Linked DNA regions of Homo sapiens: region 2 is linked to region 1. Evidence: fine-mapped expression QTL. A gene starts in region 1. The other region holds a variant in brackets. All regions are shown on one strand. Distances are from middle to middle. Region 1 holds the start of USP36 (ubiquitin specific peptidase 36). Region 2 overlaps USP36 (ubiquitin specific peptidase 36).

What was found. PIP is the estimated chance that this variant, and not a neighbour inherited with it, causes the effect.
Region 2: its variant is fine-mapped to the expression of USP36 in B cells (CEDAR, PIP 0.95).

The regions. Positions count from the first base shown.
Region 1 is chr17:78,834,004-78,846,504 of GRCh38, reverse strand. USP36 (ubiquitin specific peptidase 36) reads left to right here and starts at 5,691. Exons shown (of 21, transcript NM_001385174.1): 1 at 5,691-5,769; 2 at 7,755-7,918; 3 at 10,133-10,394; 4 at 11,004-11,225. The coding sequence starts at 10,142. LOC124904067 (a long non-coding RNA gene) reads right to left here and starts at 5,391. Exons shown (of 2, transcript XR_007065923.1): 1 at 1,106-5,391; 2 at 1-645. It also overlaps the pseudogene RPL9P29. RefSeq lists silencers at 5,204-5,303, 5,764-6,283 and enhancers at 5,424-5,613, 7,208-7,722, 7,723-8,237.
Region 2 is chr17:78,800,153-78,812,653 of GRCh38, reverse strand. It overlaps USP36 (ubiquitin specific peptidase 36), which reads left to right. Exons shown (of 21, transcript NM_001385174.1): 14 at 5,018-5,695; 15 at 6,368-6,498; 16 at 8,676-9,269; 17 at 10,119-10,330. Among named protein-coding and RNA genes, the nearest start is that of CYTH1, 24 kb to the right of the region's middle. The variant C/G (reference allele first, on the strand shown) is at 8,554.

The DNA of each region.
Region 1 (12,501 bases):
CTCAAGTGATCCGCCTGCCTCTGCCTCCCAAAGTGTTGGGATTACAGGTGTGAGCCACTGCACACAGCCTTGAGGAGAGACTTCAATCACATCAATGTAGAACTCAGTCTCCTTGGAAAGGAAAAGAGGCTCCGGGTTGACAAACGGTGGGGAAACTGAAGGGAGCCGGCTGCCGTTGGGACTGTTCATAGTCGTGTACGGAGCATGGTCAAAGGGGTTGCCCTGGGTTCCATTACAAGATGACCTCTGTGGGTGCTCACTTCCCCAGAAACGTCGTTATCCAGGAGAACGGGACTCTCGTTGAAATCTGAAACATCTTGGGTGGAAAATCCATCTGCAGGGTTCGGATGAGGCCAGGTGTTGCTTATTCAGTATCTCAAGCCCAGAATGTCGAATTAATCTTTGAAGGAAGCGACATTGAGCTTGTTTCAGTCTTGTTCAAATTCAGCTGCTCTGATTCAGCAAGCAGCAATAGTTAAAAACAAGGATATCAGAAAATGTTGGGGTGCTGTCTACGTCTCCTAAAAAGGAACAGTTCCGCAGGCTGCTGAGGAGGTTCTAAGAGTTGTCCAGCTACAGAAACACGATGTTGGATGACTCCTCAGACCTAAGTATCTGTGATATTTAGATGATTCAATAAAAGACCTATAGATTTGGAAAAAAATAAAAACAAGTCACATTGAAAATCACAAAGCATAAGCCATCTACACCTTTTTTTTTTTTTTTTTTTTTGAGACAGAGTCTCGCTCTGTCACCAAGGCTGGAGTGCGGTGGCGCGATCTCGGCTCACTGCAACCTCCACCTCCCGGGTTCAAGCAATTCTCCTGCCTCAGCCTCCTGAGTAGATGGGACTACAGGCAAATGCCACCATGCCCAGCTAATTTTTGTATTCTAGTTGAGACAGGGTTTCACCATGTTAGTCAGGCTGGTCTTGAACTTCTGACCTCAAGGTGATCCGCCCGACTCGACCTCCCAAAGTGCTGGGATTAGAGGCATGAGCTACTGCACCCAGCCCATCTACACCTTTGCAGGGGATTCTGGAGAATTCCGTGTAGCAGGATGACCTATGGAGACAAACTTGCCTCTCACCCGAGGCACCACTCACCTGTCTGTAGCCTGCGTGCTTCATCTATAGTTGGGACCTCTTGCCTGTGGGGCACCTGGTCCACCCTTCCAGCCTCAGCCATCCCAATGGCCTCCTTTTCTTTCCTTTTTTTTTTTTTTTTTTTTTTTGAGATGGAGTCTCGCTCTGTCTCGCAGGCTGGAGTGCAGTGGCGCGATCTCAGCTCATTGCAACCTCCACGTGCCAGGTTCAGTGATTCTCCTCTTTATTTTCTTGAAGGTGCCAAGCTCGCTCCTGTCTCGGGCATTTTGTTCGTGCTGTTCTCTCATTCCAGAACCTCCTTCCCTTGCTCCTCTTACAGCCGGTCTCTCATCTTCCCACTTTCAACGGAGGTAGCACATCCTCGCAAGAGTTTCCTCCGATGCCCCAGGCCAAGGTATTCTCCATCACCTCATCCTGCTCTTGGCCTGGTCACCGTTGGTCATAAAAATTATGCAAAAGTGTTCATTTGTTCATGACCTGCGTGTTCTTAAGTCCTTTGTGGGGAGAGTCCAGGGTTGATTCACTCACCACCATGTGGAACAGAGTAAATAAGAAATATTCGCTGGATGAATCAATTTGTTTGGTGCCACAGGGCCACAGGAAGGGGTGCCAGCCCCAAGAGAACAGTGGAGGCTTTGTGCGGCAGAGGCCTGGATCCTTCTTCCCCAGGAGTTGGAGACTGGAGGCCTTTAGCAAGTGCTTCCTAGGGAAACTTCAGGTCCCTCTGGGCAGAAAGGAGCCCAGAAGGGTGGATATTTGGGGGAGATGGCTGGCACCAGAGATGGCTGGCACCAAGGGGGCTGGGACTGCAGGAGGCTGTGTGGGGCGGGGACTTGGAGGGAAGTGACAGAGCAAGGGAAAGGGCTGGCGAGTGTGAGCGTGAGAGTCGGTGGATTTTGAAAGTGTGTGAGTGTGGTGGGGTGTGTGAGTGTGTGTGAGGATGTGAGTAAGAGAGAATGTATGTGTGTGTGTGTTGGGGGAATCCCTGGGACCGAACTTATTGTAGAAAGGGTGGCATCCTGCCCAGCTGCATTTAGGGGAAGGACCTCTGCCAGCCTAGGGCACATCTGGCTGAGGTGACCCTTGAGCTTGAGAGCAGTACCAGGGGAGCGATGCAGGGAATCCGCAGACTAGAAGACCAGGGTGCACCTCCCCAAACAGCCGGCTGCCTGGAGTGGCTCTTCGGAGCCTGGGTAAACCCCTGGAGATCTGTCCTATTCAAAGGAGGCAGAGAGCCCCCAAAATGATTGAGGTGGGGAATTCCAACCACCGATGGGGTAGAGGTATTAAACTAATTTAGTTTACCAAAATGAAACAAGAGAAAAGGCCGGGAGGTGGGGTGCGGTGGCTCACGCCTGTAATCCTTGCACTCTGGGAGGCTGAGGGGGGCAGATCACCTGAGGCCAAGAGTTCAAGACCAAACATGGCGAAACCCCATCTCTACTAAAAATACAAAAATCAGCTGGGTGTGGTGGCGTGCACCTGTGATCCCAGCTACTCTGGAGGCCGAGACACGATAATCGCTTGAACCCGGGAGGCGGAGCTTGCAGTGAGCTGAGATTGCACCACTGCACTCCAGCCTGGGCGACAGAGTGAGACTCCACCTCAGAAAAATAAAAAACAAGAGAAAACTACAAAATACGTATCCTGACTTGTGCCAAAGCATCTCGGAGCAGCTGCTGCTCTTGCTAGTGCCCTCTGTGGTCCCAACTCCTGGCCGCCACCTGCCCGGGCCTGGGCTGCCGCCTTGCACAGCCATTCTCCTGGCACGGTCAGATGTCTGAGAGTCAACACCATTTAGGAAGGATGACTTTCTCCACCCCTTCTGAGACTAGAAACAAAATGGAAGGGTCATAAGAATGGTGCCAAGCAGCCAAAAGAGCCACTTCCTTTGGGTACCAACAGGTGGCGTGGCGTCATGGCTCCTGTCTTCCCCAAGTGCCTGTGCCCAGCAGCTGCCTCTGCCTGTGCATCTTCTAGGGCGATGCTAATGGCAGATTTCCTGAGAGCCCTGTCCCATCTGCATGGATGGGAAGGACGACATACATTGCTGTTCTTCCTAAGGAAAGTGGCATCCCTCCCAAACCTGGGAACTCGGGTCTCCATGGACCGCACAGACACCTGAGAAAAGGTTTTGCATCAGAGGCTGATGGCAGAGGCTCTACCAGTCCAGCAAGTCACCTGACTGATGTGAAGGGTTCCCCTAGAGCAGGAGGGACATCTGGGCTGAAAACCCTCATGTGAAAAGGCCTGGGCCCCCCAGGCACTCGGCACCTATGAAATGCAACCCCAGCGGGTGGAAAAGCAAGTCCACGATTGCACTCCCCTGCCAGGCTAGGGAGAAATTCTGCTATTGCAGTTCAGGGGCAACACACCCACCCCCGCAGACCTGAGGGTGGCTGCAACTGTCAGCCACACCCAAAGAATGCAGGGCAGGCTCACTGTGGATAAATGTTTATGAAAGAACCACATGGAAATTGAAATATTTGAGATGAGACTGAATGATCTCTAAATCCTAAAAGAGAAAACTAGAGAAACATTAAAGATGAAAGAATAAAATATTCTGTTATAGAAAGCTGTAACCAAAACGGATCACATTAGAACTTACCTCAAGAAAAAGGTGCATTAACAGAATAGTTGTATTGTCACCCAAAAATTACCTGGTCCGCTCCCTGCCTGGGAGGTCAAGGTAAGATGGACTCAATTCCTCTCCTGGTTTCACAGCCTGTAGAAGATGGCTGAAGATTTGGGCTAATTTCGTGAGAGACCTACGTTGCATTTCTTTCTTTTTTTTTTTTTTAGACCAAGTATTGCTCTGTTGTCCAGGCTGCTGGAGTGCAATGGCACGATCTCAGCTCATTGCAACCTCCACCTCCCAGGTACAAGCGATTCTCCTGTCTCAGCCTCCCTAGTAGCTCGGATTACAGGCGTGCGCCACCATACCCAGCTAATTTTTGTATTTTTAGTAGAGACAGGTTTTCACCATGTTGGCCAGGCTGGTCTGGAATTCCTGACCTCAAGCGATCTGCCTGCCTCGGCCTCCCAAAGTGCTAGGATTACAGGCGTGAGCCACTGTGCCCTGCCTTTTTTTCTTTTCTTTTCTTTTCTTTTGAGACGGAGTCTCGCTCTGTCGCCCAGGCTGGAGTGCAGTGGCGACATCTCAGCTCGCTGCAACCTCCGCCTCCTAGGTTCAAGGGATTCTCGTGCCTCAGCCTCCTGAGTAGCTGGGATTACAGGCGCCCACCACCACACCCAGCTAATTTTTGTATGTTTAGTAGAGACGGGGTTTCACCATGTTGGCCATGCTGGTCTCGAACTCCTGACCTCAGGTGATCCGCCCACCTTGGCCTCCAAGTGTTGGGATTACAAGGGTGAGCCACCGCGCCCAGCCCAAGGATTCTTACAGATAGGGCATAGTCTCAGCATCAGACTAATATGGTTATCTTGTTTGCTTTTTTCAAAAAACACCAGCGCCCAGGTAATAAATACAAGGTGAATTTTGTTCCAAGTACATCTAGCCTCTCTCCCCATCTCCAGTCCCTGCTTTAGGATCCGTGGGGAGGGCATGGAAATTCGTTTTGGGTTGTTTACCTGTGACTTCACCCTACTCATCATTCCTACTTACATCAAAAAAGACACAGCAGATACGACTGTGTTTGCAAAGTTCTGCCTTTTGGATAAAGTAGTTTATGCCCATCCTGTGCTTCTCTGAGTTTCTGAGGTCAGGCCAGGAACCAACACTCTCAACCTGCCCAAGGGAATGGGGAGGAAGCCAGCGAAGTTGCCTCAGATCAAGAGGATTTTTAAAAATACTGCAAAAGAAATACGTGCTCACAAATACTCAGCTAAAACCTTCGCAGAGCTGTCAGAGGACAAAGCTTTTGGAGGGAGTGGGTGGAGCTAGAGATTGCACAGCCGCCACCAGCCTACAAAGGTCAAATCTCACACTCTCAGATCCCTAATTCCGAAGAGCCATTTCCTCGGCAGCCCCAGGCTTTGGCCGATCGCTCCCAGATCCCTCCCTCCCCAAACTGCAGGTGCTCCGCGTGTGGGAGTCACGGATGGCCCCAGAGCCCGGGACGTTAAGGCCGAGCGCCCGCGCCTCCGCTTCTCCACAGCCACCTGACGGCCAGGGGCAGGTGGGGGAGCCCAGCCTTCTCCCTGCCCGGGAGACAGCGCGGGAGGGCTGTTGCAGGGGTGGGCAAAGTCCCTCGAGTCCCCGTTCTGGGGCGGGGGCGCGCGCCACTGTCACACTTCAGGCGTCCGCCACGCCGCCAGGTGTGCTCGGCCGACCCGGAAGTAGCGGCACCTCTAGTGCGCTGCGGAGACGTCACCCTGCCGCGGCACAGGGGCGGGAGCGCCTGTGGCTCTGCGCACTTGCGTCATCACGTAGGCTGGCGGGGTCCCGTGATGGGGAGGTGACGTAGGCGACACGGAAGCGGCGGTGGGCGGGGACAGGGAGTTAGCGGAATCTAGCCCCGCCTCTTAAAGCCTCCCAACCCTTTCGGAGTTAGCGCAGCGCGAACGCTGGGTGCGGCGCCTTTAAGCGTCGCGGTGACACGTGTGTGAGGCGCCGGAGGCCCGGATGGTGCGCGTGCTGGGCCGCGGGCCGAAGGAGTCGCCAGGGCTGCGTAGGCTTGTGGCGCGCCCGCGGAGAGGCCGGGGTAGGCTGGGGTCGGGTCGGGGCGGTGCGCAGGCCTGGGGACGAGACCGGGGCGGGGGGTTCCGCGAGGCCTGGGGCGCGGGAAGGGCTGGCGGGCGCAGCCGGGACGCTCAGGGAGAACGTGGGCGCGGGTCCGCGCAGGGCTTCGGCCGTCCCCGAGGAGGACCCGGGATGCTCCGCCCGCTCGCGAGCTCGCTTCTCCAGAGCCCGGGTATTCCCGAGGAGGGTCCGGGGCCGGGCTGTCCTCGCCGGTCTCCGCCGTCCCCCGGGCTCCGGGCCGGTGATGGGGGTCGCCGGGGCCCGCTGTCTGTGCAGGATTCAGGTCAACTTCGGAGAGGTTGAAGTCGGAATCAGGGCGAGGGCGTCGCGTGCGGCCGCAGAGCTCAGCGGGGCGGGTGCGGCCCCGGGGCGGGCACCTTCCTCGTGGTTGCGGAGGAGGCCATGGAGCCCGGGGCGGGGTGCGGTTCCGATGCTGCTGCTTCTGGCGGGTGGCGTGGGGGTCCTGGGCCTGGGGCTGGAGTGGCGGCCGCCAAACCCAGACACACGAGAGGGGAGACTCCGCGCGCCCCCGTTTACGTAACGCTCGCCACGGAGCCATGCTCGGGGAGAGGTGCTCGGGTCGCTGTGTCCGCGGCCGGGCTCGGGGCAGGCGCTGCGGAGTCGCCCGGGAGGCCCCTGGAGCGCGGCGCTGGGCCCCGGGAGGCCGCTGCTTCCGTGGGCTCCTCTCCCCAGCACGTGGTTGACCCTGCGAGCGTCCGTTGCAGTTCATCCTGGAAAAGTGACTTTAGAAGGAGGAGGGAGCGGGAATGAGCCTAAATGGTGCTGGCTGGGGTTCGCGCAGGTGGAAATGTGGATGAGGCCTGTGCTGTCCTTGGACAAGAGAGAGCATCCTTCCTGAGTTGGGTAGAGTGTGGATGGTGTGTGCGTCGGAGGGATTGCTAGTGATTACAGGAACACTTGTCTCGGGCTCCTACACGTCAGAGAGCGAGCGAGCGTTGTTTAGGTTATTGCTTAATGTTTTAGGTGGAATTGGTGAAGTAGAGATTGACCTGTCCCACTTGAAAAATTGTGTTCAAAATCTCTGCATCTACATTAAGGAGTGGGTTAAGTTCAAAGTTACTTATCTCGAGTGAAACTGGGTTACATCTCCCAAGGTTCGTTTATCCCCTCCCTAAGTGGTTCTCAAGCGTTGGTTGTGCATGACAGAGTTCTCACCTTCCAGGGTAGATGTGAGTCCTAACCGAAAGCAGTGATATTGTGGGGAGTTTTTAATACGACTGGATGTCTTCACTTTGTAGATGGCTTTTATTCTGAGATCATTTCCTTACACATTTTTCGGGAGTTGGTATGCTTTTATTTATGGATGAAGTCATAGGTCTGAGATTTGCTGTAGAATTACCTGGGGATGGGAAGTGACTCAGGATGGGTCAGATGTAGTTACTGAGGCTGAATAAGGGGGGCTCATGTGCTCCCTGTGCGGTTCTCCATCTGTGTGTTTGAATGTTTTCACTGTAAACTGTTTTTACGAACCTTAATTTTATGTAATCATAGTGATCGTAGATGGTAATGAAAGAGAAAATCCACACTTAGCAAAGCAAAATTTTGGCAACTCCTATTACTCCCTGAGGTTTGTTGTTGTTGTTATTGAAGTTTTACTGGTTCATTAAATCCAAAACTTGGGGATTTATTACCTCTTACTCTTTGGAAATAAGATTAGACTGGAGCTGACTGGCAGGTGTTGGGGAGGTTTTCCTTCTCTGGGCTTGTCTGGGGTCAAGGTTAAGGTGTTCATATCGTGTGCATTACAACAACTGGTGATGAGGTAGTACGGTCCACCCGCCTCATCCTGAGTGCACGCGTGGATGCTCCTTGGACGGCTTTTTCGTGGTAGAGGGTTCCCGGTGCGCGCCGCATCCCTGGGAAGTAGCTGAAGAGAAGGCACAGGAAGAGTCGCCTCCACTGATGGTCTCCCTGTCCCTCCCACAGGCTCTGACGCCCGCTCTGCGGCTTCGGTGTTTGAACAGGCCACAGTCCAGGAGCGCTTACATTCAGGAGCTCCGCGTAGCACCTGCCCAACCAAACTCAGCCCTCCGTTAAGATCCTGGTTCCATGCCGCAGTAGGACAGCAGGCCCAAGTCTGCACATCCCAGGTGAGTCTGCGAGGCTTCTGTGTATTTTTTGATTCCGTTGAATTGTCTGCATGTGACGCAGCAGTGATTGTTCAGTTGGTGAGAAGTCTTTGATAATTCTCATGAGAAAAGGCTCTTTTATTTTCTCAAATCAGACAACTTATAATGCTTTTTTTTAAATAAGCTTCTGAAATTTCTTTACAGAAGTTTTTTGTTTTTTGTTTTTTTTTTTTTTTGAGACCAAGTCTTGCTCTGTTGCCCAGGCTGGAGTGCAGTGGCGCGATCTCGGCTCACTCCAACCTCTGCCTCCCGTGTTCAAGCAATTCTCTGCCTCAGCCTCCTGCGTAGCTGGGATTACAGGCGCCTGCCACCATGCCTGGCTAGTTTTTTTGTATTTTTAGTAGAGAAACATCTTCGCCAGGCTGGTCTTGAATTCCTGACCTCCTGATCCACCCGTCTCGGCCTCCCAAGTGCTGGGATTACAGGCGTGAGCCACGATTTTTTTTGTTTTAAAGATGGGGTCTCACGATGTTGCCCAGGCTGGACTGCACTGGCTATTCACAGGCGTAATCATAGCTCACTGCAGCCTCAGGCTCCTGCCCTCAAGTTATCCTCCCACCTCAGCCTCCCAAGCATCTGGGACGACAGGCCCAGGCCACTGCACCTGGCTTTTCTTTACAGAAGTTTTTGTAGAAAAAGATACTTGATCCATGTATAGAATTAGATGATCCACAGTGATAAATTTGAATGGCTTAATATGAGGTGCTGGAGGAAGTCCTTACTTTCACTAGAGCAGAATTTTGGGGCACACTTGACTTGTTGATTCTCTGAGGGCAGGCTGGGTACTGAATACCAGAGGAAGTCATCATTTTTCTGATGTGAGTGAGCAATTTAAGGGACATATTTTTGAAATTGTGACTCAGATAGTCTGTGCTGTGTTTGGGAAGGTTAAGTTGAGAGGTGGTGGGTAGGGGAGGGCAAGTGGTGGATACAAAGGTAGCGATTGGAGAGGTGCAGGGGTCTCTTCTTGGTTACAGTTTCCATGCAGCTGCACCAACAGTATCGATCCTCTGTTAGGGACTGTAGTATGTAGCAAGCTCTAAAGCACTTCCCAAGCCTATTATTTTTGTTGCTATTTTACAGTAGAATAGGGGGTTTGGAGAAGTCATAGTAGTTGTCCCTGGGTTTCATAGCTAAGGATGATAGAACCTCCCGGGGCCACCACATTCCAAAGCCTGTGATCTCCCCACTCTCCTGCTTGGCTTTTCTTCTTCTCTTTTGATAAGAGTCCTGGGAAGACATTTGTTTAAGTTTAGGTGTCTAATGGATACTAGTCTCTAGGCCTGCTACTTGCTTTTCTTCTCCTTCCTCACTTTTAAAAAGATAATTTGTACTCCAAGCACTGTGTAATGGAGATTAATACAAGCCACAAATATAATTTAAAATTTTATAGTAGCCACATTAAAAAGAAGCAGGTGAAATTCATTTTCATAATTTATTTAACTCAATATATATAAAATATTACCATTTCAACAGGTAACTGATCTAAAAATTACTGGGATGTTTTACATTCTCTTCTTATACTAGTGAGTATTTCTCTTCAAAATCTGGTGTGCATTTTACACTTATAGCACCTCTCAACCTGGACTAGCCTCATTTCACATGCTCAGTAGCCACGTGTGGCCTGTGGCCTTCATATTGAAGAGTGCAGGTCTGTACAGACATGCATGCTCATCTGACCTGCATGCTAATTCATTTATTGCGTGGGTGTGTGTGTGTGTGTCCGTTTGTGTGTGTGTGTGTGTGTGTCCGTGTGTGTATAACCAGTTTGTATGTGAGAATTAGTGTGCCCCTGTTTTGGAGCAGACATTTGGACCACGTGATGACCTTTGGAAGGAAATGGCACCAAGAATGATGTCCAGAGCCACTTGATGAGTATCTGATGAAGAGATGCACATGGCAGGGGCTGTCTGGCTGCCTCAGGGCCACTGTTGTCTGCTCACCTCTATTTGTAGTGGCATCTTATCTTTTTGTGGGGGAAATGTGAACTAATATGTCCAAGTGATTAGTGCTGGGTCTCCCTGTTTCCTTTGTGCAGCTGATCCAGGGGATCACTGATCCAGGGGAGCTTTTGTGGTGGCTAGCATCCATAATGACCAAAGAGGAGATCTTAAGAGATGTTTTTGTCCCGGGATTTCGTTATCTATGGCTCTATGTTTCTTCTTGTCCCCACAGTGATGCACCATGCCAATAGTGGATAAGTTGAAGGAGGCCCTGAAACCCGGCCGCAAGGACTCGGCTGATGATGGAGAACTGGGGAAGCTTCTTGCCTCCTCTGCCAAGAAGGTCCTTTTACAGAAAATCGAGTTCGAGCCAGCCAGCAAGAGCTTCTCCTACCAGCTGGAGGCCTTAAAGAGCAAATATGTGTTGCTCAACCCCAAAACAGAGGGAGCTAGTCGCCACAAGAGTGGAGATGACCCACCGGCCAGGAGACAGGGTACAGATGTGCAGTGTGCTGGCAGAGAGGCCCTCACTCCGGGGTGACGAAGTGGATGGACTTAAATATTGACTAATTAGTAGGAAAAACAAGAGAATGTGGTCAAAGAGTTATGAATTTTTACATGGGGTCAGTGGATTTCAGTTATAGAAGTAATGATACAGGGTTGGTAGCAAGGAAATCTGTGTGCTTGGTGGATCTGTGTACTTGGTGGGTCCTTGGACTTGCTGTCCCCCTATCCCAAGTATAATACAGTCGAAAGTCAGGCTTGGAACTAAGAAAGAGAAATGGGGTGGGCTGCATGTGGGCACAGTGTGGTGCAGAGTGCCAGGCCTGGCTCCTTCCGCCACTCAGTCTCTGAGCTGTGTCCTCCATCTATAGAGGGGCCCTTGAATTCTTTAGCCAAGCAGCCTAGGAGGTCCGTGGGATGGCTGGGTTTACTCCTGAGCTTTCCAGGAATGTCCTGTAAACCAGAACACCAGTTCTTCTCTGGTGCCATGTTCCGAGTCACTGCATGCTAAGTGTATGCTTCAGGAGTTTCTTTTTGTGGACGACCTGTGTGTGGACTTACGTCTTCCTCTTTTCTTCCCTTGTCCCTTTCTTCCTCAGGCAGTGAGCACACGTATGAGAGCTGTGGTGACGGAGTCCCAGCCCCGCAGAAAGTGCTTTTCCCCACGGAGCGACTGTCTCTGAGGTGGGAGCGGGTCTTCCGCGTGGGCGCAGGACTCCACAACCTTGGCAACACCTGCTTTCTCAATGCCACCATCCAGTGCTTGACCTACACACCACCTCTAGCCAACTACCTGCTCTCCAAGGAGCATGCTCGCAGCTGTGAGTGTGGGTTTGCAGCAGTGGGGTGGCTGTGGGTCCTCTGGATTAGATAAGCCCATGCACTTGTGGCACTGCTGCTCTCAGTCTGGGTCAAATTTAGGAGGGTAGTTCATAATGTATAGTAACTGATGAAACCTAAATTTGAATCATGCCTGCTGCAGAATGGGCCATGAAGGTGAATCGGTCAGGTGGGGCTGTGTTCGCCAAGCTTTTCTGTAAATAATTACCCAGACAGAAACGTTTTCAAAAGATACTTCCAAAATATATATATATATATATATACAAATATTATTTTTTTAGAGACAGTATCTTGCTCTGACACCCAGGCTGGAATGCAGTGGCTCCATCACAACTCGTTGTAGTCTTGAACTCCTGGGCTCACATGATCCTCCCATCTCAGCCTCCCAAAGTGCTGGGATTATAAGTGTGAGCCACCATGCCTAGCCCAATTGTTTTATGCATCTGTTGTTGTATCAGCATATCTTATGTGTATTATAAAACGTGCAGCCTGGACAACACAGCAAGATCCCATCTCTACAAAAACAAATCAAGGCCGGGCACGGTGGCTCACACCTGTGGGAGGCAGAGGTGGGCAGATCACTTGAGGTCAGGAGTTGGAGACCAGCCTGGCCAACATGGCGAAACCCGGTTTCTACTAAAAATATAAAAATTAGGCGTGATGGGGTGCACCTGTAATCCCAGCTGCTCGGGAGGCTGAAGCAGGAGAATTGCTTGAACCCAGAAGGTGGAGGTTGCAGTGAGCTGACCAAGATCATGCCGCTGCACTCCAGCCTGGGTGACAGAGCAAGACTCCATCTCACACACACAAAAAACAAATCGAAACAATTAGCTGGATGTGGTGGTGTGCTCTATTTGATTAAAATAGAGGTGAAATAAGATATAACTTACCAAAACTGAAAGAAATAGAAAGTGAAGAGTCTTTTAACTATTAAAGAAATTAAAGCATTGGTTAAAAATCTTCCCATAAAAAACCCCAAGCAGAGACAATGTTATTTCTGTGTAACTTTTTTTTTTTTTTGAGACGGACTCTGTTGCCTAGGCTGGAGTACGGTGGTGTGATCTCAGTTCACTGCAACCTCCGCCTCCTGGGTGCAAGCAATTCTCCTGTCTCAGCCTCCCAAATAGCTGGGACTATAGACGCACGCCACCACGCCTGGCTAATTTTTGTATTTTTAGTAGAGATGGGGTTTTACCATGTTGGTCAGGCTGGTCTTGAACTCGTGACCTCAGGTGATCCAACCGCCTTGGCCTCCTA
Region 2 (12,501 bases), 34 kb after region 1:
GCGATCTCCAATCTCGGCTCACTGCAAGCTCTGCCTCCCGGGTTCCCGCCATTCTCCTGCCTCAGCCTCCCTAGTAGCTGGGATTATAGGTGCCCGAACCACGCCCGGCTAATTTTTTTTGTATTTTTAGTAGAGACGGGGTTTCACCGTGTTAGCCAGGATGCTTTCGATCTCCTGACCTCAGGATCTGCCCGCCTCGGCCTCCCAAAGTGCTGGGATTACAGGCATGAGCCACCGCGCCCGGCCAATGTTATTTCTTAAACTGGTCATCAGCTGACATTGGCTATAGAGAAAGAGGAGACATGAATGAGAAAATTCTGACCCAACAAATTAGAATTGTCATTCACAGATCTGTTCTACTCATGAGACCAGCACCACTTACAGGTGTCGTGACAGGTGTGCCAAGCAAACTTTCTGTGTGCACTCCTTTTATTTCCTTTATAATGCCAAGCAAACTTTTTTTTTTGGAGACAGGGTCTCACTCTGTTACCCAGACTGGAGTACAGTGGCACAATCATGGTTCAGGGCAGGCTTGAGCTCCTGGATTCAAGCCACCCTCCTGCCCCAGCATCCCTAGTATTCGGGACTATCAGTGCACTACCACACCCAGCTAATTTTTAAATTTTGTGTAGAGACAGGGTCTCACTATGTTGCCCTGGCTGGTCTTAAGCTCCTCAGCCCAAGCAATTCTCCTGTCTTGGCCTCTCAGAGTGCCAGGATTACAGGCACCAAGCAAACTCTTAACCGTAAGCGTGTAGGAAAAAATATCCTTTTTTTTTTTTCTTTGAGACGGAGTCTCATTCTGTCGCCCAGGCTGGAGTGCAGTGGCGCAACCTTGGCTCGCTGCAACCTCCACCTCCCAGGTTCAAGCGATTCTCCTGCCTCAGCCTCCCGAGTAGCTGGGACTACAGGCGTGTGCCACCATGCATGGCTAATTTTTTTATTTTTAGTGGAGACGGGGTTTCACTTTATTAGCCAGGATGGTCTCTATCTGCTGACCTCCTGATCCACCCGCCTCAGCCTCCCAAAGTGCTGGGATTACAGACGTGAGCCACTGTGCCCGGCCTGTTCTCACATTTAACGGGGAAAATGTGAGTAGTTTGTACCAATGTTAATTTCCTGATTTGGGTAATTCTGCTGTGGTTATGTAAGAGAGTGTCTTTGTTCTTTGGAAATACACATGGACATATTTTGGGGTAAAAGAACATCATGTCTGCAATTTACTCAAATGGATCAGAAATAGAAATATGTGTATATGCATACGTACATAGTCATACATATATACACACGTACATATACATACAGAGAGAGGATGATAAAGGTTATGTGGTTACAGGTTAACCATTAGGAACTACCCTCTAAGTTACCTTTGTGTGTATTTGAAATTTTCTGCTAGAACTGTTAAGAATTCAGTTTCACTAAGTGGATTCATGAGCAGTTTCCTCATTAGAACACAGTGATCATTTGAAGTGGGGTGGACCCTCTTGATGACTGTTTCTTTTTTTTTTTTTTTTTTTTTTTTTGAGACAGAGTCTCGCTCTGTCACTGAGGCTGGAGTGCAGTGGCGCCATCTCAGCTCACTGCAGCCTCTGCCACTATGCAGCCTCCGCCTCTTGGGTTCAAGCGATTCTCCTGCCTCTGCCTCCTGAGTAGCTGTAATTACAGGTGCCCGCCAGCACTCCCGGCTAATTTTTGTAGTTTTAGTAGAGATGGGGTTTCACCATGTTGGCCAGGCTGGTCTGGAACTCCTGACCTCAAGTGATTCGCTCAGCTTGACCTCCCAGAGTCCTGGGATACAGGCATGAGCCACCGTGCCCGGCCTGGATGACTGTTTTTGATGGATCGTCTTCCTCTCCCTTTAGAATGAAGAGTTGAACCCCACACACAGGCAGTCAGGGCCTTTCACAGTCTGCAGGGGTTTTGGTCATTTACGTACATCTGTATTTCTCTTCACATTAAAGAAAATAGAAGCTGAAATTAGAAGCATTAGAATTGAAGTGGCAGTAAAATACATGATATAATTGCAAAGTTGGTGGTCACTGTAGCCCAGACTAGGAAGTTAGGAAGCAGCCTGGGCCTGGGACTGTGACTCATGTCTGTAATTCCAACACTTTGGGAAGCCGATGTGGGAAGATCAGTGGATCCCAGGAGTTCGAGACCAACCTGGGCAAAACCCTGTCTCTACTAAAAATGCAAAAGCTAGCCAGGTTTAATGGCACGTGCCTGTATTCCCAGCTACTCAGGAGGCTGAGGTGGGAGGATCACTTGAGCCAGGGAGATTAAGGCTGGAGTGAGTCATGATCATACCACTCCACACCAGCCTGGGCAACAGAGCAAGACCCTGTCTCAAAACAAATTTAAAAAGTAGCCTGGGCAACATAGATCCCATCAGCACAGAGAATATTCAGTAAGCTGTTGGGGGAGGATCACTTGAACCCGGGAGGTTGAGGCTGTATGCAGTGAGCCATGATCACGCTGGTGAATTCCAGGCAAGGTGACAGAGTGAGACCTTGTCTACAAAAAAAAGAAGAGGGGGGCCGGGCACTTTGGGAGGCTGAGGTGGGTGGACCATTTGAGGTCAGGAGTTTGAGACCAGCTTGCCAATATGGTGAGACCCTGTCTCTACTAAAAATACAAAAGTTAGCTGGGCATGGTGGCGTGCGCCTGTAATCCCAGCTATTCGAGAGGCCGAGGTAGGAGAATCGCTTGAACCCGGGAGGTGGAGGTTGCAGTGAGCTGAGATTGTGCCACTGCACTCCAGCCTGGGTGACAGAGCGGGACTCCATCTCAAAAAAAGGAAGCAGCCTGGGCAACATAGAAAGACCCCCATCTCCAAAACCCCATCTCCAAAAAAAGTGCAAAAATTAGCCAGGTGTGGTGGTGCACGTCTGTTGTCCCAGCTGTTTGGAGGTTGAGGCAGGAGGATCACTTAAACACAAGGCTGCATTGAGCTATCATTGTGCCACTGCGCTCCAGCCTGGACAACAGAATGAGACCCTGTCTCAAAAAACCCCAGAAAAACAAAGGAAGCCCCACTTGCCACAGGAACTCCATGGGCAGAGTGATGCCCGAGGGTGGAGATTGGCTCAAGGAGAGTCCCTGTGTCAGGCACACCTGCAGGGGCGCTTCACTGACCATGAGCATTTTCATTACAAACGTGATTTTCCAAATACACTGCAAGCAGACGAGCCGTTTTACTCTAAATGACATGGTGCAAGTTCTAGTGTGTATGGAAATGTTCAGCCAGTGAAACGGCTTTGCGGTGCAGTGGAAAGATGAATTCCTTTTAGAAAACAGTATTAACAAAGAATAGAATGTAGGGAACAAAACAAAACTTGGAAGAAAATAGAGGTAAATTCTTAACCTCTGGGAAGGGAAGAAGACTTTGTATGCTTAAAGTTGAAGGATAAAATGTAGAAGAATTATGAATTGACTAAGATTTACATTTTTGTACATAATTTACTACAAACAAATGAAGCAATAAAACCTTGTAAAATATTGTCAACAAAAGGTTAACATTTGTAAACAAAAGATCTCATTCAAATGAAGATCACTTTAGTGCATGTGCAGAGAATATGAATGTTAAAGTGGTAATAGCCCAAACGAGTGTCAAATTAGCAAATGTTTTGAAAAATAGATGTGGCTGGAGTATAGTAAAAGCAGTTTGGCATTTTGCATCAGATTTCATGAAAATGAAATCTGTAATTTCATTTCCAGAAAATTAGCCTTGTAATTCCATTTCCAGAAAATTAGCATGGAGTACTAAGTACAGGAAAAGCTCAACAAATATTTTTTAAGCACCGACTCTATACCAGACCCTTGAGTTGCTGGTGAGGGCTGCAGTGGGAACGAGAGAGATAACGGGTACAGCCTCTTGGTCAAGCAGGGGAAGGCTGACATTCAGCATCTAAATACAGAATAATAAGTTATTTCTATGCAGTTGTAATAAGTGCTCTGAAGGGTAAAGGATACACACACATATACTGTACAGTATTTTTAATTTCAACAGTTGGAGACAATATAGCTTATATAAATTAACCATACAGTTAATGTGTATCAGTAGTACATAGTATATATAGTAAAATGTCAAAGACAGGCCGACAGGCAGGGTGCAGTTGCTCAGGCCTGTAATCCCAGCACTTTGAGAGGCCAGGGTGGGAGGATTGCTTGAGCTCAGGAATTCAAGGCTAGCCGGGGCAACATAGCAAGATCCCCATCTCTACAAAATAGTAATAATTATTCGGGTGTGGTGGTCTACTCCTATAGTCCTAGCCAGTTGGGCAGCTGAAGTGGGAGGATCTCTTGAGCCCAGAAGGTTGAGGCTGCAGTGAGTTATGATGACATCATCATGCCACTGCACTCCAGCCTGGGCAACAGAGCAAGGCTCTGTCTTAAAGATATTTATTGAGAGTTATCGCCCATAAAAATGCTTGAGATAATAGCTTTAAGATAAAACTGGGATGCAACTCTTCAGGCCAGAACCATTTGGAAGAAAAGATTGAAAAAAGAAAGCACTAGAATGTTAATGCATGGTTATGTTTAGGTGATGGAACTTTGCTAAATTTCTTCCTTTATACTTTTTTCTCTTCCCAAATCTTGATGAAAATGTACTGGTTTTATAGTAAAGGTGGCCATAAAGATATGTATTCAGGCCAGGTGCTATGGCTCACACCTGTAATCCCAACACTTCTGGAGGCTGAGGCAGGTGGACTGCTCGAGGCCAGAAGTTTGAGACCAGCCTGGCCAACATGGTGAAACCCCATCTCTGTCAAAAATACAGAAATTAGCCAGGTGTGGTGGTACACGGCTGTGGTCCCTGTTCTTGGGATGTCACAGAACACCAGAATTGTTCAGAGAAGCCACAGTGTCTTTACCAAGAGTCCAGATAAATAATTTATCTTGAGCATGCTAATCAGAGGCCATGCCTGCTACTAAGATTCACTGTGGCCTTAAGAAGATGTGGCCCAGCTGAGACTTCTCGCTTCCTCAGTTGTGTTTTCTGCTTTGGTCTCCTTAGCGACAAGACTCTGGGACGATGAAGAAGCCGCACACCACTGAAGAGATTGGTGTGCCCATATCCAGGAATGGCTCCACCCTGGGCCTGAAGTCCCAGAACGGCTGCATTCCTCCAAAGCTGCCCTCGGGGTCCCCTTCCCCCAAACTCTCCCAGACACCCACACACATGCCAACCATCCTAGACGACCCTGGAAAGAAGGTGAAGAAGCCAGCTCCTCCACAGCACTTTTCCCCCAGAACTGCTCAGGGGCTGCCTGGGACCAGCAACTCGAATAGCAGCAGATCTGGGAGCCAAAGGCAGGGCTCCTGGGACAGCAGGGATGTTGTCCTCTCTACCTCACCTAAGCTCCTGGCTACAGCCACTGCCAACGGGCATGGGCTGAAGGGGAACGACGAGAGCGCTGGCCTCGACAGGAGGGGCTCCAGCAGCTCCAGCCCAGAGCACTCGGCCAGCAGCGACTCCACCAAGGCCCCCCAGACCCCCAGGAGTGGAGCGGCCCATCTCTGCGATTCTCAGGAAACGAACTGTTCCACCGCTGGCCACTCCAAAACGCCGCCAAGTGGAGCAGATTCTAAGACGGTGAAGCTGAAGTCCCCTGTCCTGAGCAACACCACCACTGAGCCTGCAAGCACCATGTCTCCTCCACCAGCCAAAAAACTGGCCCTTTCTGCCAAGAAGGTGGGTGTGTGGGGGTCTCGCCGCTGCTGTGTATCAGGAGAGCTCCAAGAGTTGCTTGGTTGTGGTTTGAAGGGAGTGAGAACATTGTCCGGGGGCTTTGGCCTCCCTCATGTTAGAGGAACAAAGTGTCTTTTAGTCGTTCCCAGCCATTTGCAATTAAAGAACGGCTATCTTGGGGTGAAGGCAGTATGGGGTGTTGAGAGAGCCCTGATCTGGTGATGCTCATGTGACTCATGGAGGTTTGGGCAAGGTAGCAGTTCCCTGTTTTCACAGTAGGTGGAAGATCCTGACTGAACCCGAGGGAGGGTGGGCCCCACCAGCACGTGTCCCTAGCAGGGGTGGGGCGGGCAGGAAGCGCAGAGCCCCAGTGGGGTGCCCGGCACCTCTGCAGCAGGAAGCTTGGGCAGCCACGGCACGTGGATGTGATTGTTGTGCTGAGATTTTTGTTTAAATTTTCTTCCTTTTTTTTGTTTCTAACCAAAAATACTTTTCTGGTTCTTCTTCTACCATTCCCCTGCCCCTCACCTCCCCTTTTTGTCTTCTTCTGTCTCCTCATCTTTTTTTCTGGGCTCTTTTGTTTTTATTTTCATTTTTTGTTACTTTTGTTTTCCCTCTTCACTCACGGAAACCTTTTTTAGACCACCAAGTTTTTATTTATGTCGATAACTGCAGGCCAGCACCCTGTGGAGGGCGACCGGCAATGACCTCCGTCCACCTCCCCCCTCACCATCCTCCGACCTCACCCACCCCATGAAAACCTCTCACCCCGTCGTTGCCTCCACTTGGCCCGTCCATAGAGCCAGGTAAGCTTTGGGCCGGGATCTTCTGGGTGCCAACTGGTTCTCCCTGTGGTTGCGTGTGCTTGGCTGGTGAGGAGTTGGACGAATCGCCAACCTCACAGGACAGACAAAGCATTGGGGCAGCCAGGAGGTACAGGGGGGCGTCACTGACCAAGATCCCCCTCTTCTGTGTTCCCCTGTGGTAAAGGAGCTTTGGGTGGTGAAGGCAGTTCGGCCTCTGCAGTCCTGATGTCTTAGTTCTGTCTTTGTTGGTGGTCTGTCTGCGACATCCTTGTGGTGATGTGGTGTGCTGGGGACTGACCTGTCCTGTATCCCTACCAGCCCCATGACAGTACTTCCCAGTCGAAGAGAAAGGCGAAGTGAGGCCTTGGCGAGAGGCTTGAGTGAGCTCGGAGTCCCGAGCGTTTTTTGTGGGACGTCTTGCCTGCTAGCGTCATGCAGGTTAAGAACTGTCTCAGGGCTCTCGGGTTCCTCTGCAGACACCTGCCAGAGATGCAGCCCCTTCCCTGTGCATGTGGGCCCTGGTCCGCAGGGGCTGCCTGCGTCTCTTAGGTGCCTCGAGTGGCAGGAAGTTGAGAGTAACTGGTAAATGGCTGTCTGGAAGCCGCTGGGAGTGGGGACGGAAGCAGTGAAAGATGGGGTGAGTCATGAGGCGGCCTGCGGGGACTGTACTGGTGGCCTCGGCGCTGGGTTCTAGTTCTAGAATCTCCAGTGCTACATGAGGGCGAGGTATGACTGTGCGTCGCCCACAGCCTCTGCCTTACTCTCCTCTCACATATACACACACAAGCACACCTCTGCCCTATACCTAGCATAAGATTTGTGTACGTGGGAGGGCCTTAAGTGTTTGGGTGTTTTTCGTTTCTTGCCTTATAAGCTTTTTTGGAAAAGATTCCAGAAGACACTTAGAGTAATCAAACATCGTGCAGCTGGCATGGCCCTTATAGTTTGTTTAGATGATGACGGGGGTCCTGTTTTCTGCAGGAACCCTGGGAGGTGGGCTTTGTGGTCCCAGCTCATTGACAAATGAGAACATGGTGGTTCAGAGTGGGAAGTTAATTTTCCTAGAGACACATAGCTGGCAAGAGGGAGCCTCACTGGGTTCGGCACTAGATCCTGTCCCGGACACGCCTTGCTCATGATTCTGCTCTACGCATCTGTGTCCCGGTTTCAGCGTCCTAATGACGGTAATGTGGAGGTGTCATTAGGCCAGCTCAACACTTGCTTTCCTTATGAGGCTCATTTCCTGCCCGGGAACACCCTGAGACTTTCGGAGGTTGGAAAATAAATCCTCACGGGATCTTTTTTTTCCTTACCATTTATTGTTTCGTGAAGGTTTCCTCCCTTAACACATTTGTATTAAAGATGTTTTTACATTAGAGCTCGCAAAAATACTTGAATTGCTTGGTGACAAGAAACTAAGGCATGGAACAATTCTTATTAACTTTGCCTTTTAAAAAAAAAAAAATTTTTTTTTTGACTTTTAAAATCACGTGTTGGCTTGCTTTTTTTTTTTTTTTTTTTTTTTTTTTTAAATCTCAGGGATCAGTTATTTTAAGTTCCAGGGTACATGTGCAGGATGTAAAGGTTTGTTACAGAGGTGCCATGGTGGTTTGCTGCACCTATCAACCCACCACCTAGGTAACTTTGTTTTTTTTTTTTTGTTTTTGTTTTTGTTTTTTTGGTTTTTTTTTTTTTTGAGACGGAGTCTTGCTTTGTCGCCCAGGCTGGAGTGCAGTGGCGCGATTCGGCTCACTGCAACCTCCACCTCCCAGGTTCAAGCGATTCTCCTGCCTCAGTCTCCTGACTAGCTGAGATTACAGGCGTGTGCCACCACGCCCGGCTAATTTTGTATTTTTAGTAGAGATGGGGTTTCACCATGTTGGCTAGGCTGGTCTCAAACTTCTGACCTCAGGTGATCCAGCCACCTTGGCTTCCCAAAGTGCTGGAATTATAGGCATGAGCCACTGTACCTGGCCAACTTTGCATTTAAATAGATGTTGAATTAATTGTTAGCTTTCTTTCAAACATACATGTAACTTAATGTGTATCTGAAAA[C/G]TACAGGGTAAAAGCCTTTTCAGATTTTTAGGTGAAAGGGAGGGGAGTGAGGGTAGACAGAAGGAACAGCTCTGCTGGGTCTTTCAGAACATCCTCTCCCTGTTTCCTGGCTGTCCCCACAGGGCTGTGTCACCTGCTCCCCAATCATCCAGCCGCCTGCAACCCCCCTTCAGCCCCCACCCCACATTGCTGTCCAGTACCCCCAAGCCCCCAGGGACGTCAGAACCACGGAGCTGCTCCTCCATCTCGACGGCGCTGCCTCAGGTCAACGAGGACCTTGTGTCTCTTCCACACCAGTTGCCAGAGGCCAGTGAGCCCCCCCAGAGCCCCTCTGAGAAGAGGAAAAAGACCTTTGTGGGAGAGCCGCAGAGGCTGGGCTCAGAGACGCGCCTCCCACAGCACATCAGGGAGGCCACTGCGGCTCCCCACGGGAAGAGGAAGAGGAAGAAGAAGAAGCGCCCGGAGGACACAGCTGCCAGCGCCCTGCAGGAGGGGCAGACACAGAGACAGCCTGGGAGCCCCATGTACAGGAGGGAGGGCCAGGCACAGCTGCCCGCTGTCAGACGGCAGGAAGATGGCACACAGCCACAGGTGAATGGCCAGCAGGTGGGATGTGTTACGGACGGCCACCACGCGAGCAGCAGGAAGCGGAGGAGGAAAGGAGCAGAAGGTCTTGGTGAAGAAGGCGGCCTGCACCAGGACCCACTTCGGCACAGGTAAGGGCAGGAGCAAAGTGGCATCTGTCTACCTCTGACGAGAAACAAAGCAAAACCACAGAATCTACCCCCAAGTAGGTATGGTCTGGAAACGTAGTCTGCTTGCGTGGTTTTCTAAAATGTGGATTTGTGATCAGATGTCTCCTCTGGCTGGGTGTGGTGGCTCACACCTGTAATCCTAGCACTTTGGGAGGCTGAGGCGGGTGGATCACTTCAACCCAGGAGTTTGAGACCAGCCTAGGCAATATGGAAAAGCCCTTTCTCTACCAAAAACAAAAATTGGTTGGGCATGGTGGCATGCACCTATAGTCCCAGCTACTCAGGAGGCTGAGGTGGGAGGATGGTTTGAGCCCAGGAGGTGGAGGTTGCAGTGAGCTGAGATCGCGTCACTGCACTACAGCCTGGGTGACAGCTAAACCCTGTCTAAAAAAAAAGAAAAAAGAAAAAATATCTCCTCTGATAAATACCAGTGGATTGATCCTTGAAGCGACAGTGGTGTGGACAGTAGTGTCCATCATTGTATGTGCAGGGCCGTTCAAGGATGCTGGATCAGGTGTCCCGGGCCAGGCCAGGATCTGCCGTTTCATCAGGTCACAGTAGCCTGCACATTGGCGTCAACAGGCTTGGCTCAGTTAGGATGGGAAACGCGACTGGTTTTCCCTCTACTGTCTCCGTGGCTGCGTGTGGAGCGTCCGCTAATGCGTGTGGGGGGAAGAATGTTGCAGGGACCTGCGTGCACTGGGTCACAGCTGGGGTGGCACCTTCTCCATGTTGCAGGCGGGTGTCTGTGCGCTCCTGCTCCCCTTCCAATTTGCTCAGAGCTGACTGCTGCCTCTCACTTCCAAGCAGCTGCTCTCCCATGGGTGATGGTGATCCAGAGGCCATGGAAGAGTCTCCAAGGAAAAAGAAAAAGAAAAAAAGAAAGCAGGAGACACAGCGGGCAGTAGAAGAGGATGGGCATCTCAAATGCCCAAGGAGTGCCAAGCCCCAAGATGCTGTTGTCCCCGAGTCCAGCAGCTGCGCACCATCCGCGAATGGCTGGTGTCCTGGGGACCGCATGGGTATGCACCGGGCGAGGGGGTGGGAACCGCATGGGTGTGCACCGGGCGAGGGGTTGGGGGACCGCATGGGTGTGCACCGGGCGAGGGGTTGGGGGACCGCATGGGCGTGCACTGGGCGAGGGGTTGGACCGCGTGGGTGTGCACCGGGCGAGGGGGTGGGGGACCGCGTGGGTGTGCACCAGGCGAGGGGTTGGGGGACCGCGTGGGTGTGCACCGGGCAAGGGGGTGGGGGACCGCGTGGGTGTGCACCGGGTGAGGGGGTATTGGGGAGTGCACAGGCTGAGAGCAGCGTCTACTGCATCTGAGCTTGGGAGGGTCTGGGAGAAGATGTGGAGGGCCCTGGGACCCTACCAACCTTCACCCCCCACCCCCGAGTCTGCTCCCTTGGGTGATGGGGTTGAAGCTTCCTCATGTGTCACAGCATTTGACTGAAACAGCCCCATGAGAGAGGTTACAGTGCACATGAACTTTAAAACATTCTGTGAATGCCAGTGGGTCTTCCGATTCAAAGCTGTTCTGTCTACAGCTTCTCACGGAATGACTCCCTGAACTCCCAGCCTGAGTTTTTTTCTGTGATGGTTGAATTTAGAAGAGTTGGGTTCAAAAGTGAATCCTCCTCTCCCTCTATGTAGCTGGGCCATTCAGAACATAGCACGGTTTGCTTGCTGTTGGGGACCTGTGTGCTGTGGCTGTCCTTGGGCACCACCCCTCAATCGGAGGGTGTTTTGTTTTCTTTAGGGCTGGCTGGGGCATGCCTTGGCAGGCACCCGCCACAGAACACATTTGTTAAGTGAAGGGGAGAGAAAGTCCTGGCTGCTTGGTATAGGGGGCCGAGCTTGAGTGAGGCCTCCTCTGCAGTCTGGAAGGTCTGATTATGGCAGTGCATCTGGGGGTCAGCAGGACCTTAGAGACTGATTTGTATTTATCCAACTCTTAAGAAAGGAATTTATCGTTAAAAATGAAATGGTATGAAATAAATAGCAAAACGTGGGTGCTAGCTAGTGCCGACTGAGTTTGCTGGCCAGCATGCTCTCAGAAGTACTGCCCTGGCCGGGGGTGGTGGCTCACGCCTGTAATCCCAACACTTTGGGAGGCCGAGGCGGGCGGATCACAAGGTTAGGAGATCGAGACCATCCTGGCTGACACGGTGAAACCCCGTCTCTACTAAAAATACAAAAAGTTAGCCAGGCATGGTGGCGGGCGCCTCTAGTCCCAGCTACTCGGGAGGCTGAGGCAGGAGAATGGTGTGAACCCAGGAGGCGGAGCTTGCAGTGAGCCGAGATTGCGCCACTGCACTCCAGCCTGGGTGACAGAGTGAGACTCCGTCTCAAAAAAAAAAAAAAAAAAAAAAAAATACTGCCCTAACATGGCACCAGAGCTGTGCTCCGTGCCACCCTCGGAGCGAAGTGGAGTTGGCTTGTTAGTGCAAGGGACATCACTTGAGCACTTGCGGTGCGCCAGGGTCCATGCCAGGTGCTGGTTGTGTCTACTGAAGTGCGCCCTGGGCCCTCGGGGCTCCCTGGCAGAGCCAGAACCACACAGTAAGGGCTCATGCTCAGCAAGGAGGCGCTGGGGGCCGCATGGGCTCTTGCAGTCCTGTGCACCTGAGGAGAGTGGCTAAATGGGCAGGGCACCAGACCCAAGGGCAGGAGGCGCAGCACGTTGGGAGCAGGCAGGCTGCTCTGCATGGCCGGGTCCCTGGGCTGTGTGGATGAGATGGGAACCATGGAAGCCACTGTGTGGGGGCAGGGGACACTTAGCCTGGAGCTCACTGAGGAATTGGAGGCAGGGAGAAATGAGGTCAGATTTGTGTGAAGGGAGGTGAGTATATTCCAGGGGCTATGTGGCTAGCTGGGCAGAGGACGAGTTCAGAAAGGGTTTCTAGAACCCGATGAGGGTGGTGAGTGCTGTCCTGGTCCCGAGGTGCTGGGTGGACCTGTGCGGTGTTGCTGATGGGGACCAGGTTCCCCCTGGACAGGGCTTAGGAGGTCGGGCCCCTGATGGCAGCAGCCAAGCTTGGCCGTTCCCTCCACCCCTGTGGCCATCCAGGTGTCAGGCTGGTCCTGGGGCATGGGCCTCTCCCGTAGGTGAGGTGGATTCCATTTAGATCTAGTTCTCTTCTCTCCTTCTGTCAGACTGAGGACTTAACACTACTGGTTAAAGGGGTTTTG